Linked DNA regions of Homo sapiens. The protein of the gene in region 1 interacts with the protein of each later gene in a pairwise test. Each region holds a gene or a part of one and is shown in the gene's direction. Other genes may lie near its edges.

Region 1 (10,647 bases):
GAAGTTGGCTCATGGAGTGGGAATCCCTCTTCCCTGGCTCCCCTAACCTGCCTGCAGTGCTCACCTGCTGGCAGGAAGTCAGCTGCCTGCCCTGGATCCTGCTGTCTAAGGAAGGGCTCTAGCATCTGCTCCTGCAGGGCCCCCACCAGGACACTCAGAGGCCAGGGAGGCCTTGTGAGTCACTGCCTCTGCAGGACCTAGGACGTGCGGCATTAAATTCCCAGCCCAACTCAACTGCTCAGAGCCGGTGGTGACTCAGCAGGGTCTACCTTCCTATGGAAGGGACCAAAGCCCAGAAGGAGCAACTCAAAGGCATGAGAACCAGCAGCGAGGGGCTCCGGGGCTGAGGAGTTGCATCTCAGGGGAGATGTACCTGGGCCTGCGCTCTGTACTTTCTTCCCCAGGGACCCGAGATTCACTGAACCCTCTCTGGCAGCACACCACTTTGGGGTCTAGGACCAGAGCCAGAGAGTATCTGTGGGCGGTGGCTGCACCCGACCCATTGCACCAACTTGCCAGGGGGTGCTGCAATGTGTGTGGGAAGAGCTTCATGGCGGCATTGTGTTTGGCTGTTAGTGGATAAAGGCTGCTGGGGCCTCCCTGCTGGGTGGTAAAGCCCTCTGGGAACCTCAAAAGTGGCATAATAAAGTTGACATACCATGCTTATGTGCACCAGGCACTATTCAAAGTGCCTTACTGTGTTATCTCATGACAACCTTGTGAGTTAGATCCTATTTTGCAGAAGGGGAAACTGAGGCGGAGAGCCTTAAGTACATTGCTAGGGTTCGATACTAGCGGGTAGTAAACCCTACATGACACCATTTTAGTCCCATTACAGCTGCTTACCGCCTGGCTCCCCAAGGTCAGAGCACCTCAAGCCGGTGTGATCTGGAGCCATGCTTTATTTAAACCGATCACTTTGACAAACCGAATGCATTTCCAATAGCTGTAGTGGGGAAAGATCAGAAAGCTGTGCTTTTGGAGTATAGGGAAGGAACTGAGGCTTTGCTCAGAGAAGAGAGGGGCAGTGAGTAGCCTCCTGGGTGGCTTGCAGAAAAGAGGTGAGACTTTTCCCTGAGGGTCTAGGTGGCAGCACTAGCACGAGGGTGGCAGCTTTAGGGTGCTGGCTTCGCTATGTCAAAGTCAAGGATACCCAAGGAATGGAGCTGTCTGAGAACAGAGTCGAAGGCTCTGGAGTGGCTGGTAATGAGCTTCCTGCCACTGAAGGTGTTCAAGCAGGACACCACCAGCAGGTAGTCCCAACCTCCTGGCAGGTGTTTGTCCAAGATATTGGGACTTGAGTGGGAGCCCTGAGCTGGCTCTTCCATGGTTGAATTCTTCTGCTTTCCTGGACCACTTTGGTGCTTGACTGTCCCCTTTTGTGGGTGGGCTTTCATCTTCCATGTATGGTCAAAATTCTTTCCTTGGACCCAGAGCTTCTGGATAGCATTATACATCCCCAGCCTCCAACCAGGCCCAGACCTGTCTCTTTCCCTTGTAACTTATGCTTGGGCCACCCAAGAAACAGAACTCCTCCTCTAGCCCAAGCCCAGATCTGCCAGCTCCAGATAGCTCTTTTAGAACAGCAAGTCCTTCAGGACCTAGTATTCCCTTTGTAGCCCGCTGTGCTCCCCAGTCACCTCCCAGTATCACAGTTTCTTGACCAGCTGAGACTTGCAGAAGTAGATCCTATTTCTGCTCAAACTTGAAAGTTGTGAAGCACAGCTCTTGGATTCAGAATGACACCATAGGAGCAGGGCATGGTGGGTGAATCCATGGACCTGCCTGGTGTGTGGCCTACATCCCGGTAATGTGGCCACTGACTCAGGAGTATGGGTCCTTTGGAAAAAGGGATGTGGCTGGGTTAGAAAGGCAGACAGGTGACCAATAGACTGGCAGGGCTCTGCTCTGAGTTTCCACTCCCTTTCTCCCTTGCTAGGTGGAGGGGAATGTGGGCTGCTGGAAATCTCCCATAAACAGTTGATATTAATCTCAGGTGCTTGCACGCCTGGAACATGCCTTTTAAGAAAGACACGTGTTCAATTTCTCTAGGTGTCAGGGGAGTTGGGCCACTGTGCTCCAGCAAGTGGTCCCCACTCTGACCTGTCTGGTGAAAGATTGCATTCGAATCTTGGGAACATTTCTGTCTTCTCCAAACCCTTGGTACTGGAAGGTGTCTGCTCGCCTGTAAAGGGTTTCTAAAGCTTTACTTTCTGTTCAAAAAACAAAACAAAACAAAAAACTTTGCCTATTCCTGCCTCTTATTGATCAGCAAGGGGCACACGGGTGAGTTTCCTCCTTTCTAAGACTCCAGCTGGTAGCAAAGGAGATGAGGAGGTTGGGGGGTGACCCCTGGTTGGCTGGATGCTGAGCTTGGTCATGATATCTCCAGGACTCCATGAAGCGACAGGCATTTTTCCTTTTCAACCAGGACATTCTTATCAAGAGGTGAGACACTGTAAATGCTCTGGACTCTTACTGAGGGGAGGGTGTCTACGCTGGAGACTTTCTTCTGCTCCCACATTTAAATTTGGCCTACTGCAGAGGTTAAGAACTAGCAAACTCTGAGTGTGCACTATTATTGACCCTGCACTATGATTTCTGTGAGCAGTGCATGAGCAGGTCATTCTCATCTTCTTAAGCTTAGAATGAAACTTCAAATGTCTTTTTCTGACAAGGCCCCTGCCTCTGAGATACCCAGTTTATTTCACCCTAACTTCACTGTAACTGAATAACATTATGAGGACCCATCCCCATCATTCCCCACCTTTTTTTTTTTTTTCTCCCTCAACAGTCCCTTTGGCCCAGATCCATGTAGAATCAGAGAATCTTCAAGCTGGGAGGGATGACTATGGGGCTGCGATGTGCTTATGAATCACCTGGGAGCTTGTTCTGATGGACATTCTGGTTTGGGAGGTCTGTGATGGGGCCTCAGATGCTGCACTTCTTGCAAGCTTCCAGGTGATATGGATGCTACTGGACAGAGGGCCACACTTTGGGTTTTGAGGATCTGGTCTTAACGTGGTCATTTTACAGATGGGAAAGCGGAGTCCCAGAAAGCTTGTCATTTCCCTGTGGTTAGAAATGAAATTCTGCTCTTCCCCACTCTAGTCTATCACCTGCTTTTTTTTTTTAAACCTTTAAGTTCAGGGGTACGTGTGTAGGATGTGCAGCTTTGTTATACAGGTAGACATGTGTCATGGGGTTTGTCGTACAGATTATTTCATCACCCAGGTATTAAGCCTGGTATCCATGAGTTATTTTTCCTGATCCTCTCCCTCCTCCCACCTTCTACCCTCTGGTAGACCCTCATGTGCATTGTCCCCTCTATGTGTCCATGCGTCACCTGCTTTTGAAAGGGCTTCCCTCTTTTTCAGCTGTCGCTTCCTGCTCAGGCCCAGAGTGTGAGCATAAACGTAGCACCCCATCTTAATCCCATTTTACTGTCAGGATGAAAGACTTCTTGCCCATCAGGGCCCCTTGCTCCACAATCTGCATTTTTACCAAATCCAGAGGGGTTTTTAAAGGTTTTTTGTTGTTGTTGTTTTTGTTGTTCTAACTTATGGATGTCTCTTCTTCTCTGCTTGACATGTTAAAAATCCTCTCTCTCTCTCTTTCTTTCTCTCTCTCTCTCTCTCTCAAAAAAGTGGGCTGGGCATCTTTTGGACACAACCATTTCAGTTCCAGGCTGGAGCACTGATGCTGGGCTGAATCCACTTGGCGTTCCCTGCCCAGGAGTGGTCTGAGAGAGGCTGTGTTTCTCTGCTGCCACCTGCCACCTCCCAAGAGAGGCCAAGTGTTAGGATCTGACTACACCTCAGTTTCCTGACTCTCAGATATTCTAAAGCCAATCCCAGAATGGCACTTGAAGTGACAGGGAAATTCCCAGTGGCCTAAGGACAGCCAGGATTGGCCTAGGGCCAGTAGCAAGTGGTTTGAGAGTCCAAGGAGGTCTTCACACTCTGTCCCCGCCTGCTGGTGGGAGGGCAAAATGCCAGTCTGGAGACAAGGCCATAATGGCGACGGGGGTAAAAATCTCCCTGGGGCCAAGGGAAGGTGGAACGTGACGGGAAGTCGGGAAAACTGCCTTGTATAGGCATGTTCTTTTCTTCCATTTTTTTCGTCCAAGTTTTTACTCCAAGCGACAGTGCCACCCGAAGGCGACCGGCCTGTTTGTGGTTGCGCCTGGGGCAGGCGGTGACACCGGCATACCCCTTCCCCCATCTTGCCTGCAAGTTGCATGACCTGCATCGGAATCCACAGGGGGGCGGGGGAGACTCCTTTCAGATACTGGATGCAGTTGAATTGAATTCAATGTATTTTGCTTCCTCGCCTGCCCTCCTCCAAGCTCGGGAAGGAGAACCCTGCTTTCTTCTGCGTGTGAATGCTGTAGTGTGTCTGCCTGCTCGGACTCCCCTAACCCTTTCTTCTCCTTTCCCACAGCGAATGCTCGTTTTTTTTTTTTTCAGCAAACAGCTCACACTTGGCATCTTTATGTTTTATTAAGAAAAAAATCCCTACCAGCGCAAAAGCGGGGCCCCCCCCACACACACTTCTTTCCCGGATGAGATCTGAGCTCTCGTCGAAAGCTGCACCTGCTTTGCGTCCCTACCAGGAAGGGGTGCTTGTGTGGGAGGGAAGGAGGAGGTTCTGCGCCCCCGAATCCGGAGAAAGCAGCCCGCCCGCCCCCTCACCCGGCAGCCAGCTCAGCTCACCCGAGAGCTGAGCCCGAGAAGCCGGCCTCTGACGGTGCTGGCGTGGCGCTTGCCAAAATATGCCCCTTGCATCTCAATTTCCCCCGGCCATTTCTCTTGCACGCACAGCTCGCCCGGGGCCACCTCGGCTCTCCAGCGCAGCCCTTTCGACCCCTGTTTCTTCCTTCCCCGATCCATGCCTGCTCAAGGCCGAATGCAAAACCCACCTCCAAGAAAGCGCAGCGGGCACGGGGGGCACCTAGCGTGCCATGTCCCGCAGTCCCCTCCCAGCCAAGACCAGAGCCCCAGACTCTAGATTACGGAAATGAGTGTCATTCAGACCAAGGACTGCGCGTCTGCGGTCCCGGTCCCCGGCTCTGGGTGCTTCTCTGGGGTGTCTGTGCGCTCCGGCACCCCCCGTCGCCGTCCGTGAGCCTGCGCCCCCCACCCACCCAGGCTTGGGAGCGCCCCCCACCCAAGGCTTGGGAGCACTCCCCAATCACCTCCGCCACGTTCATTTCACTTCCTACCGCGGTCCGGATTGCAGCAAAACCGGGTAGCGCGAGGGCCAAAAAGTGGAAAGGAGAGCGCCTTTCCGTGTCGTGCAGCCAGCTCGCCAACTCTCCCTCCCCAGCCCCGACCCTCGCAATCTCAAATGCAACTTTTTCCCTTCGGTCTCGGTTTCCCCCGGGCTGCGGCTAGCGGGCGCCGCGCTGCGAGGCGTGGAGCGGGCGGGCTGCCGCGAGGCTGCGGGTGGCGGTGCCGGCTACAGCCGCGAGCCGGCGAGTGGGTGGGTGGGTGGGTGGGGAGGAGGGAGAGGACAGGCGGGGAGAGAGACGGGTGTGGGGAGGGGAGGGAGGGGGAGATTCCGCTCTCCTGCCGCTCCCAGCCCGGGCGGGGGGCGGGGGGAGGAGGCCGCGACGAGGGAGGGGAGGAGGGAGGGAGGAAGGGAGGGAGGGAGCCGAGGAAGACGCTCCGATAACCCGTGCGTTTCGTAAGGCTCGGAGCACTTGTACATTTCTGCAGCCGCGCGGCGAGCCATTCGCGGCGGCTGCTGCAGCTCCTACTGCATCTTCCTTCTCTTCCTTTCCTCGGGCTCCGGGTGTGTGTATGTGTGAGAGTGAGTGTGTGTGTTTTGCAGGTGCGTGGTGTGTCCGTTTTAATTCTGCCCAGTAGGTGGGACTTGGTGACTTTAGCACCATTTTTTCCTTTTCCTTTTTTTTTTTTGCCTCCCCACCGTCTGTTGCAACCCTGCAAAGTCTCGGAGTCGGAGAGCGCGCCTCGCTTCCAGAGCCCCCGGACCCGGCGAGTCAGCGATCGCCGAGCCGGCCACCATGCCCGGCAGACCGCGCCACTAGGCGCTCCTCGCGGCTCCCACCCGGCGGCGGCGGCGGCGGCGGCGGCGTCCGCGATGGTTTCAGACGCTGAAGGATTTTGCATCTGATCGCTCGGCGTTTCAAAGGCAGAGGCCCCCCCTCCCCCTTCCCCCCTCCCTCGCCGTCTTTGTTTCCTTCCCCCCCTGCTCTCCCCACTCCCCCCACCCCACCCCCCTCTCCTCTCCTCCTCCTCTTTTTTAGAAGCAGCGATCGGAGATGGATGTCTCTCTTTGCCCAGCCAAGTGTAGTTTCTGGCGGATTTTCTTGCTGGGAAGCGTCTGGCTGGACTATGTGGGCTCCGTGCTGGCTTGCCCTGCAAATTGTGTCTGCAGCAAGACTGAGATCAATTGCCGGCGGCCGGACGATGGGAACCTCTTCCCCCTCCTGGAAGGGCAGGATTCAGGGAACAGCAATGGGAACGCCAGTATCAACATCACGGACATCTCAAGGAATATCACTTCCATGTAAGTCAGGCGGCCGCTCCCCAGCCTGCCTCCCCCGCGCTCTGCGTCTCCCTCCTGCCCACCCGCGGCCGGGAGCCGGCCCTCCGCCCGCCCCAGCTCGCCGCTGCCCGCCGCCCGCTGGGCGCGCGTCAGGCTCGCTCTGGCTCGGGAGATGCTCTCCGGCTGCGCATTCCAGGTGACTCCGGCCCTGGCGAGGCGCGATCCGGCTATGCGTGTGTGTGCCTCTCCCCGGAGAGGACCCCGGCCGCCGAGGGCACGCGGGGCCCAGCTACCGCCCGCCTCCCAACCAGTTGCTGGCTCGTTTCGATGGTGCAAATTGTTTTTTTTTGCTCCCCACTAAATAGCAACAGTTTGGCCACGCTCAAGTGGAATAAAGTAGACGAGGTTCGATTCTTTGGCAGAGGCGGCAGCGGCGGTGGCAGCGGCGGCAGCGCTTAGCCGGCAGGGAAGGTGACAGATAGGGACTGCTCGCGATCCAGCCGAGGTGTTTAACTATTTCCATTTGGAAACAGCAAAACATGCTGACAAGTAAACAAGTTGCGAGCTGGCTGCTCGCGGGGAGACTTTGGACGTGTGGAGGCCGTCATGGACGCCTACCTCTTCCCTTCCCCTCCTGCAGCCCGCCCTCTCCAGCCCCATTTTGGGCATTTCCGAGACACCCCTTTGCCACCCTCATCTGCATCTGGGCGCCTACAGATCCCTTCCCAGTTTGGGCTTTGATAACTGCTCGGAACTATTCCGAGTCAGGATGGCGCAGGGAGAGGAGAGGGCGTGTGTTTTGAGGAGAGGGGTTTCTTGTGTGATCGTGCGGATCGGTTCATTTGGAACATTCAACTCTGGCTGGCTTTTGCTTGGTTCTGCCCCCTCCGAGGGAGACCAGTGGTGGCCTGCTCTTTTCTCCTTGCTATTTTTCTTTGGTGGGGATGGCAGCAGACGCAAAGGAGAGGACAGATCGAGGGCTGGGGACTGGAGAGTCTGCTCCTCTTTTCTTTCGTTGACCTCGGCCAGGTGACCCCTTCCTAACCTACCACCCTGGAGAAGGGTGTGGACCATACTGGAATTGCTCAGAGGATAATTCTCACCTCTTTTCCCCCAAGGCTTCCAGCCCTTGGGGACCCTCAGCAATGGGTAGGCAGCTGAGAAGGGTTTGTGCTGAGGTCCTGGCCAAGGTCTGGAGGAAGGCATTTTGGGTGGCTCTTTACCCCTTCGACGGACTTAAGGGGGCCGGACCTGCCTTTGGTGCTGCTCTGGGAGCACCTCCCCTTGCTTCAGCCCAGGGCCATGGGGCTGCAAAGCCTGGAGGAATTGCAGTCCTGCTCTTTGGAAAGCCCACCAGCCCTCTCGGCTTAATGGAGCTTCTGCTTGCGCTCTCGCAGCTGACAGTTTGAGGGAAATGGATAGCCCAGGAGATGTCTCTGACTCCTGGCCCAGGAGACAAGCTTGACCCATATCTCAGCTCTGCTGTTCACCCCCTTACCCTCTTCAACCCGGCCAGAGATGACAAGATAAACAGCCAAGGGGCGGGGGTCAGCAGGGAGGGCAGGAGGAACAGGACAGACCCAACTGTGCCTCTCCCCCACTGCAGGCCACAGGCTTCCAGCATTCCCAAGGATGCAGGGAGAAGGGTTCAGAGTGAGACTGTTAGGGAAACTCAGACTTGGAAGTGCATTGCTGGGGCTGTATGTGTATGTGTGTAGGGGGTGGATGTGGGTAGTAGGGTGCTGGTGAAGGTGGGAGCTGAGCAGCCAGTCTTGGTGCTCAGAAGCCTGACCTAGAGATTGCCAGGGGTGGGCCAAGGGTTGGAAGAAGGGGCCCCTGGTACCCAGCCTGGGTCTCTGGGAATGGGTGAGCTGCATCCAGTGTGCTGCTCCAAGGATGTGTCTGTCTGTAGAAAGCCAGTGGGAGGCAGGGATGGTCACAATCACGTAGGCTCTTTATAGCCACACAGAGGTGTTGCTCCTCTGAAAATGATGCTCAGGGAAGCAGTTTCATAGGGCAGAGTTGGGTTAGCCTTTCTAGGCTGCCAGAAAGGTCTGTGATGGGAGGGGACTGGGGTGGCCTCTTGCCCTCTTTGGTACTGGAGGGCCTCAGGAGGGCGTCTGGGAGGATAGTGAGCAGGGAGTGGATCTGGAGCCCCTCTGTGTGTGTCCCCATTCTTGTTTCAGGACTTGGATTCTGAGAGGCCATCAGGACTCCTTTCTCTAAATCCACCCAACACCAAAGAACAAGGGAAATGGATTCCCACAGGAGCTGTGCCAGTGGCAGGTGGGGGAGGGTCAGAGGTCATGGGTCAAATGACCTCTCCTTGCCCCATCTTTTCCCCAGTGCCCTGTTATATCTATGGCTGGTATTGACTGAGCTCGAGAAGAGCCCAGATTTCCACTCCAGAGCCAGGGGGCTGGAGAGAGGGCGGAGAGTCACGCTTACCCCGGAAAGTCAGCATCCCCATCCCTGTTTGACTTCTGAGGAAATGGAGGCTTGGGGTGGTAAGGTCACTTGCCCCAGACACACAATCCCAACAGGAACCCCCACTGTGTGGGGCTGCATATGGAGCAGGCTGGAAGAGGGATGTGCGGGCAGAGAGAAGCACCCGCAGCTGGGGTCAGTTCTTGTTTTAGTATGACTTGGGAAGAGGGCTTCAGTTGAAGCCCGTGCCTTGCTGGAGAGTTGTTCTTCAGATTTCTGATGTTATCAAGGAAATGGGACCAAGAGGTCCCCTAGCTCCCTACTGGCCTGAAGCTCTTGATGCTGGTGGCTGCCCCAGGGTATAGCTTGGGCACACTCTGGGTAGAAGATGCTGAGGCCTCCACAGTTTCACCCTCTTGTTCTTCGGGCTGTAATGTTTCGAGATCCTTCCTTCAAGTGCTGAACTGATTGTAACTGAGTTTCCAGAGGGACAAGAGGTTTCCCTGTGGTTCTGCTTCTCAGGGATGGTGTGTGGAGTGATTCCTGTGTGGCCATCCAAGGAAGCTGGCTGGGAACTGCCTCTGATGGGGGAGGCCATCTCCCCATTCAGCTGCCCTGTTTGTATCTGGAGGAAATCAGTTGCAAGGCATCAGAGCATAAGTGTGGGTCTCACCTCCACCCCTCACCAGAGCCACGCTCCTCCAAAGGGCCCTCCCTTTTGGCCCCTTTCTGCCCAGGAGGCCAATCCCTTTGCCTTTGCAGCTGTTGATACACAGGAACCTCATGGAGCCTGGAAGGGTCCATGCGCAGCCACACCCAACCAGGCTGTGACGTCACAAAGGCAGGAGGGTGGTGGCCATGGTGGACTGTCTGGGCCGCTTTGCTAGGCCAGGCCTACCTGGGGCTGGGTTGGAGTGGTATGGTCTTTAGCTGTTAGAAAGAAGATGAAGTGGGAGAGGATGGCATGGCTGGACCAGGTATGCTTGGGGCTGGCTACCTCGGCTTGCAAAGACCACGGGCTCTTAGCTGGGACTCTGAGTCGCCAGCTGGGTCTCACTCTGAGCCGCCACAGGGTCCCTGGCATTTGGCAGCTCTCTGGTCCCTTCATTTCCATGGCCCTCCCTGAAGGCCCTCTTCTGGCTGGCTGAAGGATCATTCGGGGCTTTGGCCGTCATGTTGGCTCCTGAGTCTCATTCTTTCTAAGGATCAAGGGGAGACCCAGCCTTGACAATGACCCAGCAGGGTATGAGCCAGGCCCCAAAGGCATCATGGGGCTCACTCTCGGTAGGCACAGTTTGGTGCTCAGAACCCCAGGATTAGGACTAGGTCTGAGAGAGGTGGGCAGAAATGTGAGGGGCTGTTGACATGAGATTTGGAAGCAGGAGTAGTTACAGCCCCAGAGAAAGGTACTTCCAGGATCAAACCTGGAGACCTTGGTCTCCTGAGGCCCTGGGGTTTTCCACCAAGGAAAGGCTATTGGTGGCTCCAGAGCCAAGACCCCCTGCCCCAGGAAGCCCAGCAGGTCAAGCTTCTGTCATACACCCTGGGGCCAAGGGCATCTGCTCTGCACCTCCATGGGACCTGAGGCCATGACAGCTTTGGGCAAAAACCAGCCCAACCTGGCCACTGCTTTGAAAGTCCTCATCTACTGGCCCCAGGAAGGCTAAGCCTGCAACCTGGAAGGTTCCTTAGGGTCCTAGAAGGCTC
Region 2 (10,259 bases), on another chromosome or scaffold:
GAGTTTCAATGGAAATGAATAAAATGCTACATAGAGGATCTAATACTGATAGTGAATTTTGACTGCTGTTTTCCACTCTTCAGAAAAAATATATTAAACAAAATGCAGAGTCATGTAATTCAGGTTACTGTCTGTTTTGTTCATAAAGGAAAATGCTTTATATGCAGAAATTTCAAGTGAGAGGAGATGTCAGGTCTCCAAAAGCAGCTATTGTCAAACAAAGCAGCCAGATAATTAATGCCCTAGAGATGGCTGTGACCACGATATTGGATATCAGCCCATGTCTTCATCTCTCTTGGTAGAGGCACATGCTTTTGAGCTGCTGATTGTACCCACAAAGCCTATCTATGTGTTCTAAGTTTTTTGACATAAAATTTCCTCTCCTCTTTATAGAGTATTACTTTAACTTTCTGGTTATTCTTTCTACAACCCTTGCTGACCAGATACTATGAGTGAGGCATGGAAAAAGAATGGTATACGATAGTATTCAGGATGTTTTTGTTATATGTAAAGATGAATAGGCCATTTAAATAACTGATCAGCTTGATTCTCCACTTCCAAATTAATATCCCCCTTCCAGACAGAACAGCTCTGCGTGTAACCTCTTACCACATCCTCTTGTAGAGTGGCTTTTTATCCCGGGCATTTAAGAGAGGGATTCTCTATTTCAGTGCAGATGACTCCATCACCCCTCTCAGAAACTGGGCTATTCTGTAAGGGTGTGTGTGTGTGTGTGTGTGTGTGTGTGTGTATGTGTGTGTCCAACCAAAGACACTATTCCAAATAATTAAAGAATTTGGCATTTTAGGTAAGCCCACATTCTGGTTAATTGAGAATTGCCACTTATGTACATTACTAGGTTATAAGCAAATAGGGCAAAAGGCTCTCAAGGTAGTTACTTCCTTTGTATTAATTAGAAAAAGAACACTCAAGAGTTTAATAACAAAATCACACACCTTTTTTGGACGGTTGATATCTTGTTTCTGTGTATCATGACTAATAGTAATGCTGTAATTCATCACATTAGGAAAGTAATCAACAGTTCTAGCTGCACAAAATTAAAATTGATTAAGACCCGGCGTCACCCTGGCAGAAGCTAAAATTACATCAGTGTTAACTCTACGGCCAATAGCCAAAAGTCTTTTTAGTCTCTTTTGGTTTAAAAAGATCTGCTATATAAAATCTAGTGTATACAAACTAAGCAAAATGGATTAGAATAAAATAATGTTGATATATTTAATATAAATAGTTCTGCAGAGAAAGCTACTCTCATGTTTATTGACCACTGGTAGAACATCACTATGGACTGGGTGCTGTGCTAGGTGCTCTGCAAATTTGATCCATTTTATCCTCACCAAATGCATGAAGGTATGTTGGTGCCAGCCTCCCACGATAGATGAAGAAGTGGGGACTATAGGAATGAAGTAACCAATTCAGGAGCCCAGAGCCACAGCCAAGACTCAAATCCAGGGATGTCTCAAATGGTTGAACAAAGCATCCTTTCTAATCAATGAGCAACTGTGCTGTCTAAGAAGACCTTGTACATGAGTACAGGAAATATCTTTCACAGATCTAGATTCAAACACTGGGAGAAAAACACTCTTCTTAGAAATCATGCCCTTACTTTTACAATCAAGAGTTTTCCGAAGGATAAGCAAAACTGGTCAATATCCAGGGTCTCAGAGGATGTTCTCCTTGGAGGCACAGCTCATCAATCTCTTCTTGAATGTTGCAAACAATGGGCCAGGAACAGAGAGGGATGGAGGAAATGAAGAGTCATTAGCCACAATAAGTGTCCTTATGAACAGCTCTGATGTCATTTATCTCCACCTTCCAAGAATCCTGGATGGGCTTGCATAGGCAAGTGACAAATATTGTTAATTAAGTCTTTGAAGATAATGGCAAATGTCACTAAGAAAGATTTGTGTTGAATATTACATCAACTCAGCGTTCTTTCCTGGCCACGATGGCCAATGTGAGGTGACATGAGGTTAGGACAGTCATGCCTGTGCTTGGATGAAGCGGAACTCTGTTCTGAGTATGCAGAAGTTAGATTAGAGATTCTCCAAAAACCTTTTTCCAGATGGATGGCAAGAGTGAGGCAGTGGCCCCCAATTCTGGAATAAACCGGTGTTCTTGGCTGGTGTGAGACCATGTATTAGACTCTAAAGACGGTCAGAAGCAGTAACCACAACACTCTTTGTTCTACAATTCTGAGTGTGCTGATAATATGGGCAGGAGTTAGAAGGGAACTATTTTTCTGACTTTTTCTCCCAGGCTGTCCCTGCAATATCTACCATTTCATGAAAGAAACAATCTTAAACTAAGTTATACAGAGTACTTGATTCATGTTTCCTCTCTTTTTTATCATCCTGATTCTACCTTTATGGCAGAGAGAATAAGCCATCTCATGATTGCCTTGGACCAACCATCCCAGGCCAGTAGAGAAAGATACACCTATTTCCCCAGGAGCAGAGAGGTTGTCCATGGTGGGGGCTGGGTGGTGAAACTGCACAACATGGCCAGTTGAATCTTCCTTTAAAAAGGTCCTATCATCAAGTGGGGCACATAGCATGATTAGAGGCCAGGGGTTGCCTTTATTCACTTCTGCTTCCTCCTCTGCCTAATCCCTGTACCTGAGGGAGCCTTACAGATCCCCCAAATCTGGGTGATGGAGCAATGAACCATATAGGCCCATGTTCCCCTGTATTATCTCATCCTATACCTACTTTTTATATTTGTCAATAAAAAGTCTATGGCTGTCTTGTTTTTTGCAATCCATCCTTATGAATGCTCTACTACTAAAAACATAGAACAACCTTTATGGGACAATTGGAAATTTGAACACTAACTCTACATTTAATATTAAGGAAATATTAAACTTCTATTTAGGAGTGAGAATGGTATTGTGAAAATATTAGGTTTGTCTAAGAGTGCATGGCTTTTAGATCTACGTAATAAATATTTTCAGATTGAATGACATGATGTCTAGGATTTGCTTCATAATAACATGGGAGGGATGGCAGCCAGAGGACATATGGATGAAACAAGATTGGGCTTGAGCTGATAATCTTTGAAGCTGGGTGACGAGTTCACTGTACTGGGTTTGGTTTTTGGTTTGTTAGTTGTGTGTATGTTAAAAATGTCCCATAATAAAAGCTTTTTTAAAAAGAATTAAAATTGGTTATTTTAAATTAATATTAGAAAATTGTATTTCTCAAAAATATTTTATGTGCAATTATCATGATTTATAATGTTAAATGGAATAGGAAGATCTAAAACATATAAGGTACAAAGTACTGCATGTAAAGTACTGCATATACACATTTGCTTTTATATGTACATGTAAGTGGAAGAAGAAATGATGCAAATGTAAATTATGGTTGCCCCTGACTGGTGAGAATACATATTATTTTTCTTTATTCATTGTTACATTTTTGTACCTCCCAAATTTTCTAGAGAGAAAATAAACTATATTTAAAATTTTATAGTTATTTTTATATATAAGCCATGCTTGTGACATATTATTAGATTTTTTAAAAAAGATACAGAACTATTTGTGAAAAAGAACCTCAATTCTGTTTTAAAATGTGTGCACATGGTAAGTGTGTGAATGTATCTAAAATGAACAGCATCAAAAAAAGAAACAAATCTATATTCTAGATTTTCATAGACAAAAATAAATAAATATATAAATAAATAAAATGAACAGCATCAGTTGTTAATTGTGGCTATCTCTAGATGGTGACGTTATTGGACAATTTTTAGTTTATTTGCCTCTCTGTGTGTTTCTTCAATTAATAAGTATAATATTATAATCAGAAAAATGTGGCATAAAAAATAAAGCTAGATTTATTATACTTCTTTATAAGGGTTAGCTATATAGGGCAATATAACATACAAGTAACTACATAATATATACTTACAAAACACATATGTAAGTCCAAAGGAATTTTAAATTCTCAAAGTATGTTAAGCTTTTAAACGATGATATAAAATCTTTTCAATAGCCAATATTATGTGATGATGCTCTTGCCTTCATATACTTAATTCCTTAATAATCATGTTTCATTTTCTGTTCAACTCCAGGTATATCCATGCCAATACCAGTCTTTGGGCTACAGGACGATTCGAAGGTCTTTAAGGAGGGGAGTTGCTTACTCGCCGATGATAACTTTGTCCTGATCGGCTCTTTTGTGTCATTTTTCATTCCCTTAACCATCATGGTGATCACCTACTTTCTAACTATCAAGTCACTCCAGAAAGAAGCTACTTTGTGTGTAAGTGATCTTGGCACACGGGCCAAATTAGCTTCTTTCAGCTTCCTCCCTCAGAGTTCTTTGTCTTCAGAAAAGCTCTTCCAGCGGTCGATCCATAGGGAGCCAGGGTCCTACACAGGCAGGAGGACTATGCAGTCCATCAGCAATGAGCAAAAGGCATGCAAGGTGCTGGGCATCGTCTTCTTCCTGTTTGTGGTGATGTGGTGCCCTTTCTTCATCACAAACATCATGGCCGTCATCTGCAAAGAGTCCTGCAATGAGGATGTCATTGGGGCCCTGCTCAATGTGTTTGTTTGGATCGGTTATCTCTCTTCAGCAGTCAACCCACTAGTCTACACACTGTTCAACAAGACCTATAGGTCAGCCTTTTCACGGTATATTCAGTGTCAGTACAAGGAAAACAAAAAACCATTGCAGTTAATTTTAGTGAACACAATACCGGCTTTGGCCTACAAGTCTAGCCAACTTCAAATGGGACAAAAAAAGAATTCAAAGCAAGATGCCAAGACAACAGATAATGACTGCTCAATGGTTGCTCTAGGAAAGCAGCATTCTGAAGAGGCTTCTAAAGACAATAGCGACGGAGTGAATGAAAAGGTGAGCTGTGTGTGATAGGCTAGTTGCCGTGGCAACTGTGGAAGGCACACTGAGCAAGTTTTCACCTATCTGGAAAAAAAAAAATATGAGATTGGAAAAAATTAGACAAGTCTAGTGGAACCAACGATCATATCTGTATGCCTCATTTTATTCTGTCAATGAAAAGCGGGGTTCAATGCTACAAAATGTGTGCTTGGAAAATGTTCTGACAGCATTTCAGCTGTGAGCTTTCTGATACTTATTTATAACATTGTAAATGATATGTCTTTAAAATGATTCACTTTTATTGTATAATTATGAAGCCCTAAGTAAATCTAAATTAACTTCTATTTTCAAGTGGAAACCTTGCTGCTATGCTGTTCATTGATGACATGGGATTGAGTTGGTTACCTATTGCTGTAAATAAAAATAGCTATAAATAGTGAAAATTTTATTGAATATAATGGCCTCTTAAAAATTATCTTTAAAACTTACTATGGTATATATTTTGAAAGGAGAAAAAAAAAGCCACTAAGGTCAGTGTTATAAAATCTGTATTGCTAAGATAATTAAATGAAATACTTGACAACATTTTTCATTCCTGCTTTTTCATAGATACCATTTTGAAATATTCACAAGGTTGCTGGCATTTGCTGCATTTCAAGTTAATTCTCAGAAGTGAAAAAGACTTCAAATGTTATTCAATAACTATTGCTGCTTTCTCTTCTACTTCTTGTGCTTTACTCTGAATTTCCAGTGTGGTCTTGTTTAATATTTGTTCCTCTAGGTAAACTAGCAAAAGGATGATTTAACATTACCAAATGCCTTTCTAGCAATTGCTTCTCTAAAACAGCACTATCGAGGTATTTGGTAACTTGCTGTGAAATGACTGCATCATGCATGCACTCTTTTGAGCAGTAAATGTATATTGATGTAACTGTGTCAGGATTGAGGATGAACTCAGGTTTCCGGCTACTGACAGTGGTAGAGTCCTAGGACATCTCTGTAAAAAGCAGGTGACTTTCCTATGACACTCATCAGGTAAACTGATGCTTTCAGATCCATCGGTTTATACTATTTATTAAAACCATTCTGCTTGGTTCCACAATCATCTATTGAGTGTACATTTATGTGTGAAGCAAATTTCTAGATATGAGAAATATAAAAATAATTAAAACAAAATCCTTGCCTTCAAACGAAATGGCTCGGCCAGGCACGGAGGCTCGTGCATGTAATCCTAGCACTTTGGGAGGCTGAGATGGGAGGATCACTTGAGGCCAAGAGTTTGAGACCAACCTGGGTAACAAAGTGAGACCTCCCTGTCTCTACAAAAAAAATCAAAAAATTATCTGATCCTTGTGGCACACAACTGTGGTCCCAGCTACAGGGGAGGCTGAGACGCAAGGATCACTTGAGCCCAGAAGCTCAAGGCTGCAGTGAGCCAAGTTCACACCACTGCCATTTCCTCCTGGGCAACAGAGTGAGACCCTATCACAAAAAAAAAGAAAGAAAAAAAGAAAATGACTAAACTGAAATGGTCTTAGTCAAAAAATATATACAGACTTATTTTTAGAATCATTTCAACTTATTTCCTTCTTACCTGGTTCAGAAACAAGTTTGTTTCAACTGTGAGAGTAGTTTTAAAAATAAGTTTTCCTGATTGGTTACCAATAAACACCAAACAAATAAAGGAGGGGGAAAATATCACTTGAGGCTTAACATTGCAATTAATTTAGAAATACGCACCTCAATCTCAAGCCAGTTTATAACTACCATAGTTTTGAGCAAAATTTTTCTTCTATTTCTCCAAAAACTCACTCATTTCAGTATTACTCATTGACACTGGGCTCCCTAATAGAAAAGCAGATATTATAATATTTCATTGAAATGGTTACTAAAGAGAAAAAGAGATTAACAACAGTTAATCCACCTTGATATTATAACACTCAAGGTTAAATTGCATGTTGTTATTAGAATCAATGTTATATATATGATTACAATGCTGAAGCATTTCTATTGAATGAGAAATAGTGTTTGCCCTAAACCTTTGGGAAAAAAATACAGATTTGAAAACTAAAGAATGTGGGAAGTGTCATTGTGTAATTTGGAAATGCATAAAATTCTCATTATGTCCTCATAGATATGTTGAAAGATGGTTCACTGTTTCAAAGATAGAATGTATAATATGCTGCTAGTACCAAGGCTGCATTTGAACTGAACTACTCCTTATGATATACCATACTAACTGATGAAAATATAAATGTTAAAATGTCTCCACTCTAATGTATTTTGCCTTCACTTGTAACTCTGCACATTTCATTATATATTAGGGAAAAGATTACAGATTCTACCCCCATATACTCAATCTTGATCAGAATGTACATTAATGTTGCCTGATAGATGTCTTTTGACTACCTATATATTACAAATGTGTATGTGTTTTTTTCTTCCATAAGTATCTATTCAAGTGTATACTGTATAGGCAAATGTGTAGCTGTATATATGTACAGACATGTTCTCATGCACTTTATTCAATATTTATATATTTATATGGACGAAAAGCAAGTCAATGAAAACACTCAGTATATACACATGTGTGCATGTTTGTATCATGTTTATTTAAATGTGAATTCATGTTCTAATATTTCTATGACCTTCCATTGCTGCAAAGCAGATTAAAGTGTAACAAAAATATCAGCTCTTTAAATAAACTGGAAATTAATCTAATTTTGTGGAAGAACTTTAAGACAAGTCTATGAGGATGGCGAAAACAATGGTCCACATATATAGTTTCTTGATCCTAAATAAAATGGTACCTTTGGGCCCTTTGTTTAGTCTGGCAATTTTCTGACTACTATGGCTTTTTAAACAGACTCACACCTAAGTGAAACACAGTTGTCAAATGATTTATGGATCTGTGATTAAAGGATTCACTTTTAATGAATACTATTAAAACGGAGTAACAAACCTTGCTCTACTTTAAGTTGAATGATAGATTCCTCTATATTCAAAAAAAAGCAATTAACTGCCATAATTAGGGAAAACTGTTTAAAGCATACTGCATTTACTTGGCCACAGCGCCATCTCATGGTAATTTTTTAAAGTGCTACCGTAGCCAAATTGAACTAAGTCACTGTACTGCTTTCAGCAAAGGGTGCTCCTCCCATTTGTGCATCAATGAGACATATTTATAAAGTGCTAAATTATTCTGTGCCATATGTAACAAATACAGTGAAGATTATTTTATGAACTTATTTTAATCAAGGCGATGCTAAAAGTTTTCAAGAAAGGATAAATAACTGTAAATAAAGTAGACTCAAAAATGAATGAATTTTGTGTGAGTCCATAGCTGTGTCTACTAAACGGAATTACCCCAAATCTTCCAGGTCATCAGACTCAGAACTCCAGGTATCATCCTGATATTCGAGAGCAAAAAAGCCTGTGCTTCTGGAAGTCAGCCATGTCACAGAGCTAGGATCCATCCAGTTGGATTAGCTTTATCGCCATGATCCAGTTTCTAGTTATCTGCAGTAGAAATATGCTCCATGTTTGATCACTATGTCTGGTTCCACGAAGCCTAAGAACATAGAGAACAACTTCAGTGCCCTAAGAGATGTGCACAGGTGCGTGTGGTGTACACCAGGACATGCACACAGGTGTGCACACGCACAGATGCATTAACATATGCACACACACTCTCTCTCTTTCACAGGAGATCATTTCAGGAATTAAAGTAAACCAAGGAGGCATGGTGTCATTTAACAGTTACCCTCATTCATCATTTCATCTTTAACTGCAGGGAAAGTATATTGAGTGCCTACTGTGTGCCAAGCATTAAGCTGGTTGCTTTCCTTGCTTCACCAAATGGAATTTTCACAACAATCTGACAAGGTAGAATTATTTTTCTTTTTTACAGATGAAGAAACAGAGATTCAGAGTAGTTAGTAACATATTTAAAGTCACACTGCTGGCAAGAAAATTGGCAAGTTTAAGCCTGGGTCATCTGACTCCAAAGCATAAAATATTTTCCCAACCTCATGCAGTGCAGGGGAAAGATCACCTGTCAAAACCACAATAGGAGAGTTCCCATGTTGGCTTCTCCATTCACTGCTTATGTGAGTTGGAACCAGTCTCTTAACAACTCTGGGCCTTGATTTCACTGTCTGTAAAATGGAGCTGCTGGTACCCATCCTGGCTAACTGACAGAGTAATTTAGATAAGATCATGCCTATGGCTGTGCTTGATAACTTGTAAAACACCATGTAAATGTAATCAGTGTGTTAGTAAAAAGGAACAACTCCAAAGCCTCTGTAAATTATTAGCCATCAGAGCAAATTCTAGCCAAAACTGTGGGATAGGCAATATTATAATTCAGCAGCTTCTGCTACTCTCTTGGTGTTTCTCTTTTTCAAAAAATTTACTTCTGCTTTGTCCCCACCTTAATGCAGATCTCCCTTCTTTGGTGCTCTCTCTTATGACTTACATAAAAACTTTCCATCCCATATGCCATTCCCTTGGGTGTCAACTCTCTGGAAGACTACTACTAAGTAACTGAAGCTGATATGCCATTGTGTATCATTGACATCTCTTCAGCAGCCCACCATGATGAAAACCCAAAAGGCAGAAATCAAAGGAAAAATGTTAGGCATCAAGGAGACAAGTGAGAAGAAAATTTGGGGACAAGAAATGTTTTCTTGGTATCCCTGAAATGACCAACAACAACAACAAAAAAACAAGTATCTTCAAACACTTCATAACTTATATAAAGTTTTATAACTTAATATTGAATTTAATCCACAATAATAATGATGATTTTGAAAGAAACATTCAAGACTTTGAAGATTTCATTCTAAACTAAGAACATTAATGATGCATTTGTCCCAGCAAATATGCAATGAGACAAGACTTCTTTGTGAATTTCTGATTATTTTGGCATGCGGCTTGCTAAAACAAAATTTTTAAAAATTTTTTCCTTAATGGTTTACACACCAGTCTTAACTCTTTCTTTTTTTTTTTTTTTCTTTTGAGGTGGAGTCCTGCTGTATCACCCAGGCTGGAGTGCAATGGTGTGATCTCAGCTCACTGTGACCTCCGCCTCCCAGGGTTCAAGCAATTCTCCTGCCTCAGCCTCCTTAGTAGCAGGGATTACAGGTGCGCACCACCACGCCTGGCTAATTTTTTGTATTTTTAGTAGAGGTGGGGTTTCACCATGTTGGTCAGGCTGGTCTTGAACTCCTGACCTTGTGATCCCCTCGCCTCGGCCTCCCAAAGTGCTGGGATTACAGGCGTGAGCCACCATGCCCGGCCCAACTCTGACCTTCTTTTTTGATATTAACACCAGTATGTCCATCTGAGCCAGCGTTTTATGGGAAGTCTTCATACCCAATTGGAACCTTTTTTCAT
Region 3 (9,192 bases), on another chromosome or scaffold:
TGGGCCAGCGCTACGGGCCCCTCTCCGAGCCAGGCAGTGCTCGTGCCTATAGCAACAGCATCGTCCGCAGTAGCCGCACTACTCTTGACCGCATGGAGGTGAGCTTCTGGCCACATTCACCCCCGGGCATACCCTGCCTGCACACATTCACTCCACTGACTTTCATCAAGCACCTGCTCTTTGCTGGGCACTGTTCTGCATCAGCAGAGGACAAAAAGATAATATGCCAAGTAAACCAGTAAACACACAAACTTTGTAAACAGGTCAGTAAACATATAGCAAGCCCTGTCTTTAGTATCTGCTGAGCAGGGGGAGGGCAGGAACAGCAGAACTCGTGAGGAAGCCACTGCAGTAGTACAAGTGGGCAGCGGTGGTGGTGGCAGGGGACACAGTGAGAAGTGATCTGACTCTAGGTAGATTTTCAGGGCTCCACACCTCAAAGGTTCTCGGGCTTTTTGCAAGATGCACCCACCCTGACCCTCTCCATTTGCAGGACTTTGAGGATGATCCTCGGGCCCTGGGGGCCCGTGGGCACCGTCGTTCTGTCAGCAGAGGCTCCTACCAGCTGCAGGCGCAGATGAACCGTGCCGTCTATGAGGACAGGTATGCACCAGAGGCAGCCAAGGCGGGGGGCGGGTTGCGAGGAGGAGAGGGGCCCTGGGGCAATGGCAGACTGAACACTCTCGCATCTACCTCCTGTCACCCCTCACTTCCTATTGGGGCCCAGGCCCCCTGGCAGCGTGGTGCCCACGTCAGCAGCAGAGGCAAGTCGGGCCATGGCCGGGGACACGTCACTGAGCGAGAACTATGCCTTTGCGGGCATGTATCATGTTTTTGACCAGCACGTGGATGAGGCAGGTGAGCCAGTGGGTAGCGGGTTCCATCACCAAGCGTTTGCCCAAACTGTGACAACCAACCAAGGCATCCTTTTCTGAATCCAAGGCCCCTGGCACACTCCAAAGGAGGAATGACCATCCATAAAGCCTTTTGTAGACTGAAAATCCCTCTGCAAAGTGGTCAGTGCTTCGTCTACTGGAAAGGGCCTCAGAAGCCTAAGAGAGAGCCCTTTGCAGCAGGCTGCCTGGGTTCCTGAGTCACTTGGAAGAGTTCAAAGCCTTTGCTGATGATAAATCCCCTTGCAGAGGGCAGAGTGGGCTACAGTGTCAAGGGTTTTGCAAATTGCCAAGACCTTGATTATAAAGTGTTCGCTAAGACAGGAACTTTTTCATGTTGCAGAAGACTTTTGCAATCTGCAAAGGAGCTGCTAAGACTTAGGGAGCTTTGGCAGAGGGTCTTCAGGGGTTACAGTTCCCTTTGTCAGCCAAGGAAAGCCCTTTGCTGAGGCCACTGTTCCTCATGCAGTGGGGCCCCAGCCCCAGGCACACACGTCAGAGCCTTTTAGAGAGAAAAGTGCCCAGTGAGTGTGCAGATTCCCACTAATGGCTTCTTGGCATTGCAGTCCCAAGGGTGCGCTTCGCCAATGATGACCGACACCGCCTGGCCTGCTGCTCACTCGACGGCAGCATCTCCCTGTGCCAGCTGGTGCCTGCCCCACCCACAGTGCTTCGCGTGCTACGGGGCCACACCCGTGGTGTCTCCGACTTCGCCTGGTCCCTCTCCAATGACATCCTCGTGTCCACCTCACTGGATGCCACCATGCGCATCTGGGCCTCTGAGGATGGTCGCTGCATCCGAGAGATCCCTGACCCCGATAGCGCTGAACTGCTCTGCTGCACCTTCCAGCCTGTCAACAACAACCTCACTGTGGTCAGGCTCCAGGACACCCACTCACCAAGGGCTGGTGGGCTGGGTCAGGAAGGCTATCTGAGGGAATCAGAGTATAAGGAGGGACAGCCAGGGGGGGCCTAGGACCCCCCCACCCCCCACCCAATCTCGTCAGAGCAGTCCTAGTGTGGTCAGACTTAAAAGGGAAGCAGATCAGAAGACGGGAGTGGGCCAGGCGCAGTGGCTCACGCCTGTAATCCCAGCACTTTGGGAGGCGGAGGCGGGCGGATCACGAGGTCAGGAGATTGAGACCATCCTGGCTAACACGGTGAAACCCCATCTCTACTAAAAATACAAAAAATTAGCCGGGCATGGTGGCGGGCGCCTATAGTCTCAGCTACTTGGGAGGCTGAGGCAGGAGAATGGTGTGAACCTGGGAGGTGGAGCTTGCAGTGAGCCGAGATGGCACCACTGGGCGACAGAGCGAGACTCCGCCCCCACCCCCCATAAAAAGGGGAATGCCGTTCTTGATCTGGGTTGGCCTTGCTGTGGTACACTCCAGGGAGCACGGGCCAGGGTCAGGGTTCTGGCTCTGGAGCCCCTTTGGTCCCATCAGCTACAGTCCTACAGTTTTCCAACTGCAGGGGCTACCTCTGAGGAGCAGGATGATGAGGCTGAGCCTCGTCTGGTCTGTCAGTGGCCCCACCGTGTCAGACTCCAGGGTAGATTGGTCAGAGAGCAGGGGAAGGACATTAGAAAGTCTGGTGTGGCCCGGGGTGTAGTGGGGTGAACTGCAGAGGAACAGACCAAGAGTGAGCTTGTGGGCCGGGATCCTCCCCGCATTAGCAGCAGCCCCACAAGTTCCAGAAAGGAGCAGCCAGGGAGCAGGGGAAAGCTGGGATCACAGGCCTAGGCAGGCCCTATGGTTCTCACACTGTAGGAGGACTGGCCAAGGGGCAGCATGATGGCTCTGAAGGCCCTTTAGTCCCGTAGGCAGGTGGCCTACTCTGGGCAGATTGCAAAAGGGGCTGGCTAGGGAGGTGGATTCATGCCTGGTCACCTTGTCTACCTGCCACAGCCCTATTGTGAATAGACTCTAATAGGGACCAGCCAGTCGCATCAACAGCAGCCCCACTGTGGTCAGACTCAAGGAGGGCCTGGCTGGAAGCAGGATGATGGTCTGTGCATTCTCCCCACAGGTGGGGAACGCCAAGCACAACGTGCATGTCATGAACATCTCCACAGGCAAGAAAGTGAAGGGGGGCTCCAGCAAGCTGACAGGCCGTGTCCTTGCTCTGTCCTTTGATGCCCCTGGCCGGCTGCTCTGGGCGGGTGATGACCGTGGCAGTGTCTTCTCTTTCCTCTTTGATATGGCCACAGGTAGGCAGACAGCAGGCCTGCATCTGGGTGCTCGCCCTCCAGCCCTCCCAGGGCACAGCCCTCACCCTCACCTTTGCCTTCCCTCCCTCTGCTGCTGCAGGGAAGCTGACCAAAGCCAAGCGTTTGGTGGTGCATGAGGGGAGCCCTGTGACCAGCATCTCAGCCCGGTCCTGGGTCAGCCGCGAGGCCCGGGATCCCTCACTGCTCATCAATGCTTGCCTCAACAAGTTGCTGCTCTACAGGTGGGTCCCCCATCAGGGCCTCCTGGAGACGGAGGACCTGCCTCCTCCAGCACACTGGGACAGTAGCTCATCTCCTCCATCAGGTTAATTTAATTGAGGGAGCAGTAGTAGCAGTAACAGTAATAGCAGTAGTGAGCGCGTTTACAGCCATCACTGTGGCCAGGCCCTGTTCGAAGCAGTTTCCACGTATCACCACATTCAATCCTTGCACCGACCTGTGAGGTAGGTGCTGTTATTATCTCCATTTTGCAGGTGAGCAAACTGAAGCATAAAATAGATTAGGGCTACTTAAAGCAGAGACCTGTTTTCCTTTCTTCCTTCCTTCCTTTTTTTTTTTTTTTTTTTGCGGGGAGTAGTGTGGGGGTTACTGTCCCCACTCACATCTGTCATGTTACCCAAATGCAGTTCTCAGCCTGGGCCACACATTGGAATGACCTGAAGAGCTTCAAAAACTCCTGTCTGGGCCCCTCTACAGGCCAGTAATTTCAGAAGCTTTGGGATGGGCCTGGGCATTGGTAGATTGAGAAATTCCCTAAGCAATGTCTGGCCAGTCCTGAAAACCACTGCCTAACAGGATGCTTTTTATTCTACCCCTTTATTTCTCTCCTCCTTTTTAAACAATTTCTGTATATATACTTAACAATTTTTTAATTTAAGCGTACCCTTAAGTTTGCCCATTTCCCACAGCCTCTCCTTTCTTCCTCCTGCCACCTCTGGCCTCCTCCTGCCACAGTAAAGCCCATTAATGATCCACATCTTTCCACATATCCTTCTCTTTCCACAAATCCTAGGCGTGTACATATATCCATGTATGTTTTTGTTTGTTTGTGAGACAGGGTTTTGCTGTTACCCAGATTGGAGTGCAGTGGCATGATCATGGCTCACTGCAACCTCCAACTCCTGGGCTCATGCGATTCTCCCACCTCAGCCTAAGTAGCTGAGATTACAGGCACACGCCACCATGCTCGGCCAACCTTTTTAATCTATTTTTTGTAGAGATGAGGTTTTGCTGTGTTACTCAGTCTGGTCTTAAACTCTTGGCCTCAAGTGATCCTTGTACCTTGGCCTCCCAAAGTGCTGGGATTACAGACGTGAGCCACCTTGCCTAGCTCCCACCACAGTTTTGAAAGAAAGACGTTTTAAAGAAATGGCCTTTTCCGGCCAGGCACAGTGGCGCACTCCTGTAATCTCAGCACTTTGGGAGGCCAAGGCGGGTGGATCACCTGAGGTCAGGAGTTCAAGACCAGCCTGGCCAACATGGTGAATCCCCGTCTCTACTAAAAATACAAAAATTAGCTGGGCATGGTGGCAGGCGCCTATAATCCCAGCTACTTGGGAGGCTGAGGCTGGAGAATTGCTTGAACTTGGGAGGCGGAGGTTGCAGCGAGGCGAGATCGTGCCATTGCACTCCAGCCTGGGTGACAGAGCCAGACTCCATCTCTTAAAAAAAGAAAGAAAAAAGAAATGGCCTTTCCTACATTTCGAGTTTCTCACCAGGCAATGCCTTGTGGAAACCCCCCCAGGTTACCTGTGGGGACAGTGTTTTATTCTCTCTAAGGGCTGTGCAGTTTTCCACAGTGTGGGCATACCATGGTGTGTTCATTTCCTCTCTTTGTGCTTATCTTAATACCAGGATCTTTTAGAGACCCTTACAAAGAAAAACTAGTGAATGAAACTGCAGAGGCTCCCATTTATATCAACAGAGACAGTTTCTGAACCATCAGTAACTCACACATCAGCCCCTACTTATAGTTTATGTAGTCATCTCAGAATTGGGTTTCATAAGCTGGGTGTGGTGTGTGCCTATAGGTAGTCCCGGCTACTCGGGAGACTGAGGCGGGAGGATCACTTGAGCCTAGGAGGTTGAGGCTGCAGTGAGCCGTGATCGCACCACTACACTCCAGCCTGGGTGACAGAGTGAGATCCTGTCTCAAAAACAAAAAAAAAAATATGGGTTTCATGAACCCTGTAAAGAACTTAGGCACAGGGGTGGGGACACAGGCCCACAACTTGTCTCCCTGCTAGGGCTGGGGCTGTGTTTTGACCCACTCTCTCATCCTCTCAGGGTGGTAGACAACGAGGGGACCCTGCAGCTGAAGAGAAGCTTCCCCATCGAGCAGAGCTCACATCCTGTGCGCAGCATCTTCTGTCCCCTCATGTCCTTCCGCCAGGGGGCCTGCGTGGGTGAGTCCTGTAGGGACAGGGGATCTGGGTGGCTGGGGAGGGGCAGGAACCAGGGCTGGTGCCAACCTGGCTCAGACATCACGACACCGATGCCCTGACTTCCTGGACCTCATGACCCCTCCTGCCCCAACAGCCTCACTGTGGAACTCACAGCTCCAAACAGCTCAGAGAACTCACAGTTTGCACTTGATCTCGGCCAAAAGGCCGAGAAGTGATGAAAACTCACACTTTGAACGCACTAACTCCCCAAACAGCCCAGAGACCTCGCATTCTGCACACAGTACCAAAACAGCCAGGTGACCTCCCATCTAGGGATGGGGCCCCCTCAAACCTCCCCAAGCCATGCTAGGACCTCACACCTCGGACATACACCCTTCAACACCTCAGACACCTCAGGGACTTCCCACCAGGGGCACCCCAGGCGCCTCCCGATGGCCTCTCCCTCTCACCCCGACAGTGACGGGCAGTGAGGACATGTGCGTGCACTTCTTTGATGTGGAGCGGGCGGCCAAGGCTGCTGTCAACAAGCTGCAGGGCCACAGTGCACCTGTGCTTGATGTCAGCTTCAACTGCGACGAGAGCCTACTGGCCTCCAGTGACGCCAGCGGCATGGTCATCGTCTGGAGGCGGGAGCAGAAGTAGGGTCCTGTCGGCCCTGCTGCTGTCCTCCATCCCACCCCTCTTACTCCAGCCTCGTGTTGTAAATAAAGTTTCGGTGGTCATGCTGAGGGCCGGCTCCCAGCTCTGCCGGGGACGGACAGGGCAGAGGGCAGCGGGCAGCTCCAGGAACACGGTGGAACGGGGTTCATTGACTCATTTGTGCATTCATGCATCGACGGATTCATTCATTCCACAAGCATTGATTGAATGTCTGCTGGGTTACAGGCCCTGCCTTAACTGTTTTACACACTTATGCATTCGATAGACATTAGTGAGCCCTGACCGTGTGCCAGGAACTGTTCTAGGCACTGGGGATACTGCTCTGACCTAAACTGATGGAAATGCCTGCCTTCATTGGGCTTGCATCATAGCGGAGACAGTAGATAAAAACATGGAACAGGCCAGCTAATGATGAGTGGTATGAAGAAAATAAAGCAAGGATGGGAGACAGAGCTGCAGAAGTTGGGGGAGTGGGCTCTTTATGGTGACAGCATCAGGGAAGATGATCCTGACAGGGTGACTTTTTTGTTTTTGAGACAGGGTCTCACTCTGTCACCCAGGTTGGAATGCAGTGGCATGACCATAGCTCACTGCAGCCTCAACCTCCAGGGCTCAAGTGATCCTCACTTAAGCCTCCCAAGTAGCTGGGACTACAGGTGTGTGCCACCACACTCGGGTAATTTTTGTATTTTTAGTAGAGACGGGGTCTCGCCATGTTGCTCAGGCTGGTCTTGAACTCCTGGGCTCAAGCGATCCACTCGCCTCAGCCTCCCAAAGTGCTGGGATTACAGGCATGAACCACCACGCCTGGCTCAGGGTGACATTTAAAGACCTGAATGAAGTGAGTGGGAGTCATAGTGTAGGGGGAGAACATTCCAGGCAGAGAGAAAGCCAGCCTAAAGGCACTGAGGCTGGAGCGCTCCAGAAGGATCATTGTGTATGCCAGAGTCTTGCTGGACCAGAGTGTGACAGTACATGAGGTCAGACAGGCCAGATGCTTCATGGGCCACAGTTAGGACTTTGGCTTTTTTTCTGAGTGGGGGTGACCAGAAGGTGTCAAGCAGAGGAGGAACATGATCTGACTTGGTCATAGAGGCTCCCTCTGGCTGCTGAAGGGGACAGATTGGGGGTGGGGGTAGAAGCAGGGGACCCAGCAGGAGACCCCTCTGAGCGCAGTGATGGGGACTTGCACCAGGGTAGTGACAGTGGAGGAGTTGGCGGGGGAATGTTGGGTCGGACCCCCAGGGGGTTCACTATGTTAGGCTGCAGGACTCTGCTGCCTCCTCAGGGGGCGATATTCCCAACCCTTCTGTGCATTGTGTTGTTTATTAAAAGCAGGGAGCAGAGGTGTTGAGTCCTGGAGCCCCAAGCTGGTGCAGGAGCAACGGGAAGTTAAGGCTGACCTGGGGCCTCCTGCTGTGTGGCGGAATCTCCATCCCTCAGACCACCCCTGTCTCCTCCCAGCCCCATCCAGGGTACAAATTCCAGCCCTGGAACAGCTCAGAGACCAAAAAGTGATGTTAAGTATTTGAGGGGAGCCCCAAGAGAGGAGAAAAAGCTTTGAGTATTGATGGGGGTAAATAACCAAAATCACTTATCAGTGGCCTGCGTCACCAGAAAATGTCAAAGTTACCTGAAGCAGCAAAGAGGCTCTTGCTCCGGCCCCTCCCTTCCTTCTCAGCTCCATTTGTTGCCACATATGCGTTGACTGGAACTGCGACTGACATCTTGGGACCTTAGGGTCAGTCCACAGCGTGGTAGAGACTCCAGCTTGGCCCAGCATTGCTGAGCTGCTGAACTCGCACCAACAGTCTTGTTGGAGGGAAATAATCTCCCGTTTGTTCAGTCCAGTTATTTGACAGTGTGGTTACTTGCACCCCAAGCATTTCTAACTGGCACTTCCATCTAATAGACCTCAGGGTACATGGTGGTGAGATAGGGACATCAGTGAGCTGGATTGTTCCCATGGTAAAGGTCATGTATGTGTGTGTGTGTCATGGTCCTCAATACCAGCCCCAAGCCCAGTGATTTGCTAGGAGGACTCCCAAGACTCAGTATGTGGTTGTATTCATGGCTACGATTGACTTATTACAACAAAAAGATATGGAGCAAAATCAGCAAAAAGAAATGGTGTGCAGGACCAACTCCCAGAGAGACCCAGGCACAAGTTTCCAGGGCTTCTCTCTCATTGGAGTCACACAAGATGTGCTCGGTTCACAGTAATGGGTTGTGACAATACATGCGAAATGTTGCTGACCAAGGAAGCTCAATTAGAGACTCAGCACCCAGAGGTTTTTTTTGTTGTTGTTGTTGTTTTGGTTTTTTTTTGGCGGGGGGGGGGGGGTCTTGCTCTGACGCCCAGGCTGGAATGCAGTGGCATGATCTTGGCTCACTGCAGCCTCCACCTCCTGGGTTCAAGCGATCCTCGGGCCTCAGCTTCCCGAATAGCTGGAACTACAGGCGCGCACCAGCAAGCTCGGCTAATTTTTGTATTTTTAGTAGGGATGGGGTTTCACCATGTTGGCCAGGCTGATCTTGAACTCCTGACCTCAAGTGATCCTCCCACCTCAGCCTCCCAAACTGCTGGGATTACAGGCGTGAGCACCTGGCTGGTATCAAGTTTTTATTGGGGCATGGTCACATAGGCACCCCCTGCCTGGCACCTACCCAAATCCCAGGCTCCCAAAAGGAAAGCAGGGGCTCAGCATAAACCACCTTTTTTTTTTTTTTTTTAATTGAGACGGAGTCTCGCTTTGTCGCCAGGCTGGAGTGCAGTGGCGTGATCTCGGCTTACTGTAACCTCCGCCTCCTGGGTTCAAGCAATTCTCCTGCCTCAGCTTCCTGAATAGCTGGGACTACAGGCGCCTGCCACCACCACGCCCAGCTAATTTTTGTATTTTTAGTAGAGACGGGGTTTCACCATATTGGCCAGGCTGGTCTCCATCTCTTGACCTTGTGATCCGCCTGCCTCGACCTCCCAAAGTGCTGGGATTACAGGCAT

Evidence for each region.
Region 2: the proteins of NTRK3 (region 1) and HTR2A interact in a two-hybrid assay, tested with the Homo sapiens proteins (one study listed by IntAct).
Region 3: the proteins of NTRK3 (region 1) and WDR13 interact in a two-hybrid assay, tested with the Homo sapiens proteins (one study listed by BioGRID).

The regions. Positions count from the first base shown.
Region 1 is NC_000015.10:88,251,793-88,262,439, reverse strand, and holds the start of NTRK3 (NT-3 growth factor receptor isoform a precursor), read left to right. Parts: upstream 1-5,700; 5' UTR 5,701-5,796; intron 5,797-5,953; 5' UTR 5,954-6,156; exon of another isoform or gene 6,157-6,271; 5' UTR 6,272-6,286; coding exon 6,287-6,534; intron 6,535-8,961; exon of another isoform or gene 8,962-9,710; intron 9,711-9,825; exon of another isoform or gene 9,826-9,917; intron 9,918-10,647. UniProt on the Homo sapiens protein: Receptor tyrosine kinase involved in nervous system and probably heart development.
Region 2 is NC_000013.11:46,829,470-46,839,728, reverse strand, and holds the end of HTR2A (5-hydroxytryptamine receptor 2A), read left to right. Parts: intron 1-4,089; coding exon 4,090-4,892; 3' UTR 4,893-8,183; downstream 8,184-10,259. UniProt on the Homo sapiens protein: G-protein coupled receptor for 5-hydroxytryptamine (serotonin).
Region 3 is NC_000023.11:48,598,860-48,608,051, forward strand, and holds part of WDR13 (WD repeat-containing protein 13), read left to right. Parts: coding exon 1-98; intron 99-493; coding exon 494-603; intron 604-727; coding exon 728-858; intron 859-1,459; coding exon 1,460-1,767; intron 1,768-2,924; coding exon 2,925-3,105; intron 3,106-3,205; coding exon 3,206-3,347; intron 3,348-5,412; coding exon 5,413-5,531; intron 5,532-5,988; coding exon 5,989-6,173; 3' UTR 6,174-9,192.